Linked DNA regions of Homo sapiens. The protein of the gene in region 2 interacts with the protein of the main gene of each other region in a pairwise test. Each region holds a gene or a part of one and is shown on either strand. Other genes may lie near its edges.

Region 1 (7,036 bases), on a different chromosome or scaffold from region 2:
GATCATTCATGTTTTTGGTCATGATTCTCAGATTTATCAGGTTCTCAGCAATGACCTGGGCTTTTGATGGAACTGGTCTATGGCAGTACTGCTTCATTTTGTTGCTTCACATCAATCACAAGGATTGGCATTCATACATTTTATTTGCTTTAGGTAATTATTCAGAGATTTTTAGATCACAATTCACAAAGTAATGTAAATGGACCCAAACATGTAAGGCACAACATAATTTAAATAACATTGCCCTGATTTATTAGGGAAAATCTGATAGAGTAATCTTTGGAGCTCTCCAATTAAGTACACTTTAGGATACATTTGTTAAAACTGCAAATTTTTACTTTAAACAATATGGAGTATCAATTTTAAGGCTCAGTTCTCAGCACATTTGGCCTTTCTACATGCACATAGAAAATAATCGGAATTTTTTCATGTTTAAAATGAATGAAAAACCACCAGATAATTAACCCTTTCATCTGAAAGAGTTGACAACTGACCTGCACTTAGGAGAAAACATGAAATCCATTTAAACAGATAAAACCAACTGCAAATTTGCCAGAACATATACATCCTAGCCCACACAATTTTTAAAAAAACTTTTTTTGGACATTTAAAGAGGTAATTTAAAGGCAAAGTAATAAGTGAAAATGAGTTAATTTTCATTTATTTTGGAGATGCTTTTAGATGTCTAAAAAGGCAAAGTTGCAGTACTAATTGACTTTTAAAGCAAACCTGGGCAGTTCTGTCAGTTTGTGCTTCTGTGAGCAATATTCATTTGATGTTGATGGTAGTGATTTAGAGTAGAGGGCGAAATTGGCAGACATGTTTAATTACTGGAAGAACTGTAACTCACAAACTTCTAGTACAAGTCAGAATTCTTTAGGAATTCTTTGGATATTTTGAGGGCTTTCGGCTCAGATTCATTAAAATAAACTATTGATCTATTCATAGAATGAATTAGCTTATCCAATTATTACTTTGGCTGATTCTCACCACTCCCTAACCTCTCTAAAAATAAAACTGTACAGTTGATAGAATTAGCTGGTGGTTTTCAATCTGGGATGATAGTCTTTAAATATCCTATGGAGAAAGAGGATTAAGCATGTAAAATCTAGCTGGTGTTTTAATTGGCTTTACAGCAATGAAACCAGCTGCATATTAGAATCGCCTGGGGTGCTTTTAAAAGACAGTAGTTCCAGGCCCCAACCCAAGCCCACTTAAGTCAGACTCTAGAGAATGAGGCCTGGGTGTCAGTATTAAGCATCCGAGGTGATTCTGATTATATAGTCAGGCTGAAGAACCACTGCCTCAAAATGCTAGTTCTATTAACATTTCAAAAGCTTTAAACTTCCTAACTGGAACAAGTTAGTTTTCCCAGACCTTTGTGATTTGACTGGGGGTTTTGGTTGCAGTCTGATATGTCCTGATTAGCTAGAGAAAGCCTAGTCTTTCTGAACCTTCCTTTGCCCAAGTTTGGCATCCAGCCTTGTCTAGGGAAAGAAGTATCACTTTTCAGAATACTGTGCTAAGGAGAGAATATGGTGTTTCATCAGTTTATGAATGAGATGGAGGTGCTGAGGGCCTTGGAAATCATATGGGGTTAAGATCAAAACTATTTGCTAGGTAGAATGTTAGGGTATAATATCCAGCTGTGGACAAAATTGCTATCAATGAGACCCTAAAATAGAGCACTAAGATCACTTAGCTATGTTTTGCCAAATACAGACGTTTTCTTTTGACTTTTAAAATCTACTTCTTAGATCACTTATCAAATAAAGAAACACATTAACAACTTCTTTAGGAGGAGTATTATATCTAGTGCCATCTTGGGAAAGGCCTTCAAACTCTTCTTGCTTCCTAATATTGGTTGTCCACAAAGGGAAACTATCCCATTCTTCATTTCTCCTATTGAGGTGGTAAACAACCATGTTATGTTTTGTCACATTGCTAGCGTAAATGCCCTTGACAGATTACCAGGGAGATGGAAATGCTGTCACCACTTTGCATGTCTCAGAGGACCTACTTGTGATTGAATAGGGAAGGTGTGATTGAGTGGGGAACATGTGCTGGATGTATGGTCTCTTCACCTTGCTATGACCTTGCTTTGTCTTTGTTTATTTACCCAAGGACCAGGAACTACCAAGACGACCAAGTCATCTGCTGTGCCCCCAGGCCTCCCTGTGTATTTGGACCTGTGCTACATTCCTAACCACAGCAATAGTAAGAATGTTGATGTGGAATTTTTCAAGAGAGTGCGGTCTTCCTACTACGTGGTGAGTGGGAATGACCCTGCTGCTGAGGAGCCCAGCCGGGCTGTCCTGGACGCTTTGTTGGAAGGAAAGGCTCAGTGGGGCAGCAACATGCAGGTGAGAACTCCTCGACAGTGTCTGCACTGCCGATTGAGCTGTGTCCAGAGGCAATGGGAAGGAACCATGTTTAAAGAGGCACCTCATGTGGCTGATCGTGGATCCACATGAGGTGCCTCCTGTGTCTGTCACACACGAAATATCCTGAGAACAAAGTCAGTTTAACACACAGTAGGTAGTCTGAAATAATATTCTTGGCACCACCACCAACCACGGCCTTGGAGGAAAGACACCTTAACTAAAGCAGAAACCATTTATCTGCAAAATGGGCCTAAGATTAATTGCCCTTCCTCCAGTATGCCAAGAGTCTTGTGTGTGTGAATCAAAGCGGTCATATTTCCATATGAGAGCTCCTGAGGAATTGCCTTTCTTCCTTTGTGTTTTATGAGTAGACTGCGGCTAGGAATATGGCCATTTAGAAAAACAGCTCTCCATGTGAAATTCCACAGCAGGAGCATTGCTGAATATAGTCCCTCACAGGACACTCCCAACTCCCAAACATCATGCCTGACCACAAACCATCCCTTATTTATTTAATGACAGGGTCTCCCTATGTTGCCCAGGCTGGTCTCGAACTCCTGGCCTTAAATGATTCTTAGAACCAGCTATTATTAATTCAGCTGTGATCTTTGCTTATCAAGTTTTATTTGTGGTTCTGTACAAAATTACCTAGTAAATTGTGCTTGTATCATATTATATAGAATTACTTGTTATTTAATCATATGAAATCTAATGAGAGGCACCCAGTGGCTCCCTACTGAATGCTAGATGGAATTTATACTATTCAGGACATTACTTACCCACCCCATACCTCCATCCCCAACCACACACATAAAGTAAAGGTGCAGATCTTTGTTCTCAGGACAAAATGTTAGTTACTCACAATGAGTGGGCTTTTGAGGGCTTTGAAGTGCGCGATAAAATCCTTGGATTAAATATGCAATATCTTTTATGCAAAACTTACCAGTTGTGTTAAAGGAAATACAAAAAATTGTACCCTAACGGAAGCACTTCTCTTAACAGTAAAGAACTGAGAAACTGATTAATTGCTTTTTGGTTCCAGCCTTCAGTTTCCCTTAGAAACAATAGCTTTTCTTTGCAGCTTTATTCTGGTTCCTGGAAAATATACATTGAAAAATCCTTTGCATTTCTTGAGGAAAATAGAAAAGTTTTCTCTCATTTCCCTTCTTCTTCCAGTGGTCTAATACCTTGCTATTCAATTTTTTTCATATGGTTTCTGTTTCTGCCCTTAAATAGCTATTTTTTTTTTCTCTCCCTGCAGGTGACACTGATCCCAACTCATGACTCAGAAGTGATGAGGGAATGGTACCAGGAGACCCATGAGAAACAGCAAGATCTCAACATCATGGTTTTAGCAAGCAGCAGCACAGTGGTTATGCAAGATGAATCCTTCCCTGCATGCAAGATTGAACTGTAAAAACCAAGGCCAGCCACACCACAGGATCTGAACTTTGTTTCCAGAAATTCTTCAATTTGAAATCACCTTTTCTAAAAAGTCAATTCATCTAGTTAAGTCGCTGAACAATTACCTGCCAAATGCTATACTGTGTCATGGTGATGCAAGTCACTAAATTTCTCAGTTTTTGCTGATTGCTAAGGGAAATAACAGTATTTCCACAATAGGGTTCAAATTCCTGCAAAATTACCTACCCCAGTTCATCTCTGCTGAACATTTGGAAACCATGCACTAGCCAACCCAACTGACTTCTGCTAGGTAGAGGCATTTGTCTTAGAGAGAGAGAGAGCGCGGGAGAGAGTGAGAGAGAGTGAGAGCACAAAGATAACGCAGGAGAGAGAGAGAGAAAGAATGAGAAAGAAAAGGAATGCAAGAGAAGGAGATGTAATGACAGAGAGTTCTGGTGAGATACCCAGAGAGAAAAAGAGAGAGCAGGGTGGGGTAAGGAGGAGAAAATAAACCAACAATTAGGTCTGCATTTTCTCAGGCAGTAGGCATTCTTTAGTCTACATAGGCAAAGTTTTCCATTTTTGTCAGTCTGAGTCATCAAAAAGAGTCTTAATTTTCTAAAACAAGTTGGCTAGAAGAAAGTAAAAAGAACAACACTTGTTATGAGGGCATGTGATATTTTCACATCTTAATTAAGCTCCTTCAGTTTGAAGGCTGCACACTGACATAATGTAGTGAGTGTAGACTGGCCATGCAAGTGGTTTGGGCCCCATTCAGAACTCTCAGACTCTAAACACACAAGTAGATTGATCTAAGGCATGCTCCCAGCATTTGTCCACCCACTTAGTCCACTCTGAGTCGATTAACCTGCATGCAGCAACACCCAAGTCCACCCCAATTAACTGAAGCAAATACCAAAGCAGTTGGGAGTACATATGGTAGACAATTTGCCTTAGGAAGTGACTTGAATGTACAAAGATACTTGATGCACTTATTTTTTAATGTGAGACAGCAAGTTTATAAAACATCCATATAGGATTATAGATACTTAAAGGAACACGTGGGTGAGCGTGTGTGGGGGTACTAGAAGCTGATCTGATTGGTCCAACAGTTTGATGCTGAGTCATGCGTGTTGAATCCCACTTCAGTGCACCTGTGGCCTCTCAGTCAAACAAGTTGTGCCTTTCACAGCTTCTTTACTACTGCAAGTTCAAGACTGAAATGGCTTCTATGATCAGAACTGGGAAAACAGTGAATCTTATGGTGGAAGAGGTTCTCAGCAAGTGTACAGTATTTACCTTCCTTTGTCTTACATTGGCTTTTTAAATTTTCCATTAATTTCAACATAATTATGGGAACAAGTGTACAGAAGAATTTTTTTTTTAAGATATGTGAGAACTTTTCATAGATGAACTTTTTAACAAATGTTTTCATTTACAGGAAATTGCAAAGAAAATTCTCAAGTGATAGTCTTTTTTTTTAAGTGTTTCGTAAGACAAAAATTGAATAATGTTTTTTGAAGTTCTGGCAAGATTGAAGTCTGATATTGCAGTAATGATATTTATTAAAAACCCATAACTACCAGGAATAATGATACCTCCCACCCCTTGATTCCCATAACATAAAAGTGCTACTTGAGAGTGGGGGAGAATGGCATGGTAGGCTACTTTTCAGGGCCTTGACAAGTACATCACCCAGTGGTATCCTACATACTTCTTTCAAGATCTTCAACCATGAGGTAAAAGAGCCAAGTTCAAAGAACCCTAGCACAAATTTGCTTTGGGATTTTCTTTTCTGGAAAAAAAAAATAAAAGAAATAGTACATTGAAAACAAATGAATTCTCAACTCCTACGGTTCATGTAGAGTTTAGAGAAAATTTCCATCATTGTCATCATTGAACTGTGAACCTGGGAAGCCAGATCATGATTAACACTGACATCAAGTTTCAAGTTGCAGATCAATGCACCCAGTGTTCAGATGAGGCAAACTTCTCCGTGACAACTGTGCTGTGCTCTGTCACATTACATTTCCTGCAGACTCTAAGATCTACGGAGTAGAGAACAATGACCTCATTTTATTTTCTATGTTAGTTATTTATTTCAAAATTAACATTTTAGTTGATTTTTGTCTGATAAGTCTATGTTTTGCACTGCTAACTATGATGAGGGTTTAAAAAAATGCTTCTTCAGGGTCCTTTCACTGAGGACCTATGCAGTCTACTTAATGCTGTGAATTACATTTTTCAAATGTTTAATTTTTTAAAGAAAATTAATATTCTATTTTTGTTAGGCTTCTCTAGAAATGCAGCTTTTATTTATTACCCCATTTCTTTCAAGTCCTTGGAAAATAACATATTAAGGGTACAAGAAATTAACACATGATGGAAAAGTCATTGTGACGCCAATGAATTTCATTGAGTATAAACTCATCTACTTCAAATTTATTTTATAACACAACCTAAGATACTCAAGATAATTATTTAATGGTTAGCTCTTAAGTTGAATTGGTCTACATAATGCGTGGGAAGAAAACCAGATTTTTAGCCTTCTTGCCAAATCCAGACCTCTGGTTGATTTTTCTTTGACAGAAGATGCAAGTTATTTTCCAATTTCACAATTAAATGTATTTAACCTGAACATTATTTTGCTTTAAAAACTATAAACATTGTAGGAGAATTATAGCCAGTCTTCAGTTATAACCACTCCACCCTCCTCACTTTCTCTCTCTCTCTCTCTTTTTTTTTTTTTTTTTTTTTGCTATGGGATTTAATGGGAAAAATATGTAAAAACTGTCACTAGTCAGCTGGCTCTTTTTCCTATGAAATCTATCAGTACCTTTCTCCATCCGTTGTTCTCAATATGACCACAGAGCCTGAGTATACCAAGAAAACCAATATTCGCATTACAGGTTGCTCCTGTCCTTCCAGACACCTTTCCTGCCTGTGTGACTAACCTAATTTTGCTAGTTCCATAAATACACGATTAGTTTAGTAACAGCCATCACAATGTACCATGTACATTCATGGTGAGAGCTAAAGATCGACACAGACTTCTAGGAGCTTTGTTCATACTGATTACTTAATCCAATTGTATAGATTGAATATTTGAGTGGAAGGAATTTACACTCTGTTTAAATGATGGGATTCTATCGAGATAGCACTCATGATCATGACCTTTTTGGTAGTATTCTTAAACAAAATTCTACAGAGACTAAATGTTAGCGATGATCCTCCATTTTCAATTTTAA
Region 2 (4,897 bases):
CCACCGTCTGCCCCTTTGAGGCAGTCCCACTGACTGCCTCTGTGATCAGTCTTGGCAGCCCCGGAGCCCTGGTTAGGAAAGTCGCTCCCCGATGGGTAGTGAAGTGAGTCCATTTCAGAGCCTTTCACTGGGCTGTTTCTGGGGAGACAAGACTTGCAGTAAGCTCTGGGGAGGCTGGATTAGAAGAGGGGAAGAGGATTTTAGAGGCAGGGACTGAACCTGCTGGGGTAAGCCTGGCCGTTGTTTCTATGTGAAGAAGTACAGAATGCATGGCCCCATTTTCTGCTTTTTGCTTTCATATGCTAATTAAGATATTCATTGAGCACTTAAACTGTGCTAGGGAAAACCAAAGTCTGCCTTGAACTGATAGGTAGCAGGATAACACTGCTGGATCCCAAATCAGAGAGTGACACTATGGAAATAGAGCACCAGGAGTTGGCCATTTTCCTAAAGAGATTGGCTGGTTCCCAGTTTTTTAACAAGATCTGTGAGGGGGTGAGTCCCAGCTCTACCACTCGCAAGCTGTGTGTCCCCAGACAATTTACCTGACCTTTCTGAGCCTATTTCTTCATCTGTAAAATAGGGATCATGATAGCTTTCTCACAGGGTTGTTAAGAGGATAAAGTGAAGTGTAAGTAAAATGCTTAAGGACAGTGTCTGACAAGGGGTAAGTGTCTGACTGCTTATTGTAGGCGTTCACACCCTCCTCCAGGTTCCTGGCACTGTGTTGGGTTTTGTGTTTGTGTGTTCTGAGTCTCTCTGTAGCAGAGTCATTTTCTATGACTTGCTCAGAATTCTAAATCAACTCTTGCTAATTGCAAAAGTTAGAACTAGAGAGTTTTAAAGTGACAATAGCATGGACAAGGCGCCTGTGTCCCCTCCCAACTCCCCCCGCAGTTTCCTGTCTCCCTCAATGGAGGATGCAGACACATCCGCTTGCCACACGGACTCACTCAGATAGTGTCTTCCAGTTCCAGCCAGCCGGCCCAGGCTTGAGAGACACAGGCCAATGACAATAGAATCGCGGAGGCCAGGCGCGGTGGCTCACGCCTGTAATCCTAGCACTTTGGGAGGCCGAGGCGGGCGGATCACTTGAGGTCAGGAGATCGAGACCAGCCTAGGCAACATGGCGAGACTCCATCTCTACTAAAAATATAAAAATTAGCCAGGCATGTTGATGGATGCCTATAATTCCAGCTACACAGGAGGCTGGGGCACGCGAATCGCTTGAACCTGGGAGGCAGAGGTTGCAGTGAGCCGAGATGGCACCGCTGCATTCCAGCCTGGGCAATAGAGCGAGACTCAGTTAAAAAAAAAAAAAAAAGCTGGCCAGATGAGCTTGGTTTCTGTTTAGTTGTGCTGCTGGCTTTGCCTTCTCCCTAGGTCTAGACTCTTAGGCTCATCTCTAAAGAATATTGTATTTTAAAAATAAAGTCTTAGTAAAACAGGTTCCCCTAGAACAGGGCAGTAAGTTGTATTGGCTAATAGCTGTTACATCTTCCTCTTCCTGTCACAGGAGTGCTGCATGTGAGGTTTGGGGGGGTGGGGATGGGGGAGGGTTGTGGATTTTGTTTTTTGTTTTTTGTTTTTTAAATAATCTCACTGACCATCTGCATATTTCCAGCTTTCAGTAAAGGAGAGCTTATACATGCAAAAAAAAACCAGAACCTTAGCAAACAGACTGATGAGGGAACTCTTTGGTGACATTTTAAAAGAATGTTTCCCTTGACAAAAAAGAAGTCTGTCACCAAGTTCTTTTAAACTTCAGGAACCAGGTTTAACAAGCAGAGATTCAACTTGCATATACTTTCAGGAGCAGAGGAAAGCAAGGGCCCTGTGTTGAGAAAGAAAGTCATACACCTTGCTGAATCTCAAGCCGGTTGGGAATGATGTCCTCAGGGGGTCTTGAATTTATCTTCCCCAACCCTTCCAGGTGGTCCAAGTTTGCAAGCTAGGGAAGGGGCTGGGTCAGGTGACGTTGAACTTGCCCACAGAATCTGGATTTGCTTAAACTGGGGTCTTCTCTTGAAGCCAAAACTAGATTGAGGACAGATGCAAGAAAGGATGGCCTACTTTGCACGTCAGGGAGTCTGCTCGGGAACTTGTTCTCCTCAGAGAATGTGCAGACTGGAGAGCTGCCTGCCTTACAGGGACTTCAGATCAGAGTTCTTAACCTGGGTCCTGGAATCCATAACCCCCTGAAACTGCTTGCAAATATTATAAATGATACGGACATTTTCTGGAGAAGGAGTTCAAAGCTTTCTGCAGATTTCCCAATGAGTCCTTGATCTGAAATAAATTAAGAACCTCTGCTTTACATTCCTCCCGAGATGTCAAGTCTTGGTGGGGGCTCTGAGAGGCTGGGGGTGACCCCGGCCTTTTTGTGCTCTGTGTGGCTTCCTCAGCATGTCCCAAGGCAGGGCATTTCTAATGTTCTGGTGTCTGTCCTTTCTCCTAGGAGGATGAAGAAGGTTATAACGATGGAGAGGTAGATGACGAGGAAGATGAAGAAGAGCTTGGTGGTATGGCAGCCTTTTTACTCTCAGCTGGTAGCAGCCTGGCCCTTTCACTTTGGCCTTAGATTGCTTAGACTCAGAGGCCCCTGGCAGTGGGCAGGACACTCCTGTCAGAGGCCTCAGATTCCCCTTCCAGCTGTGCAGATGTCTTGCCTCGGTTTCCAAGGATGGCACAGCTTGCTAGTCATGGGTCCCCTGACTTCTCACTGGGTGGGTTGAGTTAAAGAGGTGGGATTAATAACTAATCTAAATGCCGCTTTCTTACTTTTCCAGAAGAAGAAAGGGGTCAGAAGCGAAAACGAGAACCTGAAGATGAGGGAGAAGATGATGACTAAGTGGAATAACCTATTTTGAAAAATTCCTATTGTGATTTGACTGTTTTTACCCATATCCCCTCTCCCCCCCCCCTCCAATCCTGCCCCCTGAAACTTATTTTTTTCTGATTGTAACGTTGCTGTGGGAACGAGAGGGGAAGAGTGTACTGGGGGTTGCGGGGGGAGGGATGGCGGGTGGGGGTGGAATAAAATACTATTTTTACTGCCACTCTTTATTTTTTTCCCCTACTTTTTCTTTGTGTCCGGTTTTTGTCCCTGTAAATGCGATAGCTAAGTACACACTAAGTGAGCATTTGTTCCTGACTCTCAAAGAGGATGGTTTGGAGTTCTCTTACGTTTCCTGGTATTTCCCAAGTCTCTTGGGTTGGTTGGAAGGCTGTGGCTGGTCTCAGTTTGGTTACTCAATGCCCAGGAGGGGCTGAGCACCAGCCATATCTTTTGCTTTGGTTCACATGATGATACCTGCTTTTCTCAGGCCTGCTAGAGGCATCCAACGCCCTGGTTTGTAAATAGCAACCTAAAGGCGTATTTTGGCACTGGTCTGGGGACATTCCCCATCTCTCATCCCTTTTCCCCCTTCACAGATGGTGGTGGGCTTCGCTCTACAAAGAGGACTCTGATGTTACTCTTGAGCTTATGAGCCAGAGAGCTGAAAACCGCAGGCTTGTTGTGTTAAGTTACAAGGAAAATGGATTTGGTAATTAAAATTAGAAGAAACACACCTTCAAACTTCAACTTCTTTAAAAGAAAAAAAAAACTGTCCTATCTTGTTCTGTAAAATATTAGAACGCTTTGTTTTACAAAAAATGATGAGAGAATTCTTCCACATGTACTTCTGTGCTTAGAACATTTTTACGGACCTAAGCGCTGGAGACGTTGCTGCATGTCGGCTGGGTTTTTTTTTTCATACACCCGAGCACGGAAAAACTAACGCAAAATTGTATTTTCTTACCTAGTGGAAATCTGAAATGACTGCAAATTCCTAGTGAATGTACAGGTTTGCTTTCGTGTCCCTCTTCTGGTTGCTTTAGAAGTGACGTGTAATTTCTGAACCCATGTTTCATCTGTATAAAAGAACATCTGCACCAGTTTTTCTCCTGCCCCTCAGAAGAGCCAAACTTTGAGTTTTATGTCTGTTTGTCATTGATAAATTTCAATAAATCTTTTTATACAATTTTTTTGGGGATGGCTTCTTTGAGTCCAACAGGCCATTGATCTTTTCAAGATGCATTCCAGATGAACTGCTAGGTGAGGGGGAAGCTTCATTTTTGTTACCTGATAGAATAGCTTTTCTTATGAGATATATATAATGTGATACTATGTTTGGATATTTTTGGTCTTAAAGCAAGACTCAGTGGTGTATCTTCATTAAAAGCTTCCTTTAAAAAAGTTACAGAGTTACTAAAAAAACAAGTACCCAAACAATCAAGTTGGGCCAACCTTGGAACCTTGTTTTGAATATCTTTCATTGTTTTGTTTGTCGTATTGTAAAAAGAATGTATGGTTGAAAACTCAGGAATGTTTATAAAACAAATTATTTCACAAACCCAGAGGTTTACATATGGTGTTTTATTTTGTTACTTTACTTAACAGTATTATAATCATTTCCCTGTTTCTTTAATTTTCAAAAGCATGTATCTTAAATGGCTACATAGTAGTCCATCAACTATATTCTGATTTACTTAATTCTAACCAAATGGTTAGATGTTTTCATTATGTCCAGCTTACCCCTGTAGTGGATATTGTTATATTACTACTTATTTATACTTTTTGTGGAGTTCTTAGTACAAACTCTTAGAAGTAGTAGAGTCATTGGACCAAAAGCTAAAAACATTTATGAGGCTCATGTACAAGGTTCCATGTTTTCCAGAAGAGTTCAGCCAGTTTACTGTGGTTGTTTATACACGTACACATATACTCATTCTTATGTATTCATTCTATACAGCCTTGAACCCACAACAAGCCCTAGTTCCTTACAATGTCTTATAGTTGTTGTGTGATTCCAGCAGTGTAAAGTGTTTCCAGAAGAGCCCGTGACCCACCTCA

Evidence for each region. Proteins that work in one complex are often made in the same cells at the same time.
Region 1: the proteins of ANP32A (region 2) and MAP1B interact in a two-hybrid assay, tested with the Homo sapiens proteins (one study listed by BioGRID).

What each region holds. Positions count from the first base shown.
Region 1 is NC_000005.10:72,201,439-72,208,474, forward strand, and holds part of MAP1B (microtubule-associated protein 1B), read left to right. Parts: intron 1-2,124; coding exon 2,125-2,363; intron 2,364-3,645; coding exon 3,646-3,801; 3' UTR 3,802-7,036. UniProt on the Homo sapiens protein: Facilitates tyrosination of alpha-tubulin in neuronal microtubules. Phosphorylated MAP1B is required for proper microtubule dynamics and plays a role in the cytoskeletal changes that accompany neuronal differentiation and neurite extension.
Region 2 is NC_000015.10:68,778,035-68,782,931, reverse strand, and holds the end of ANP32A (acidic leucine-rich nuclear phosphoprotein 32 family member A), read left to right. Parts: intron 1-2,458; coding exon 2,459-2,522; intron 2,523-2,789; coding exon 2,790-2,851; 3' UTR 2,852-4,397; downstream 4,398-4,897. UniProt on the Homo sapiens protein: Multifunctional protein that is involved in the regulation of many processes including tumor suppression, apoptosis, cell cycle progression or transcription. Promotes apoptosis by favouring the activation of caspase-9/CASP9 and allowing apoptosome formation.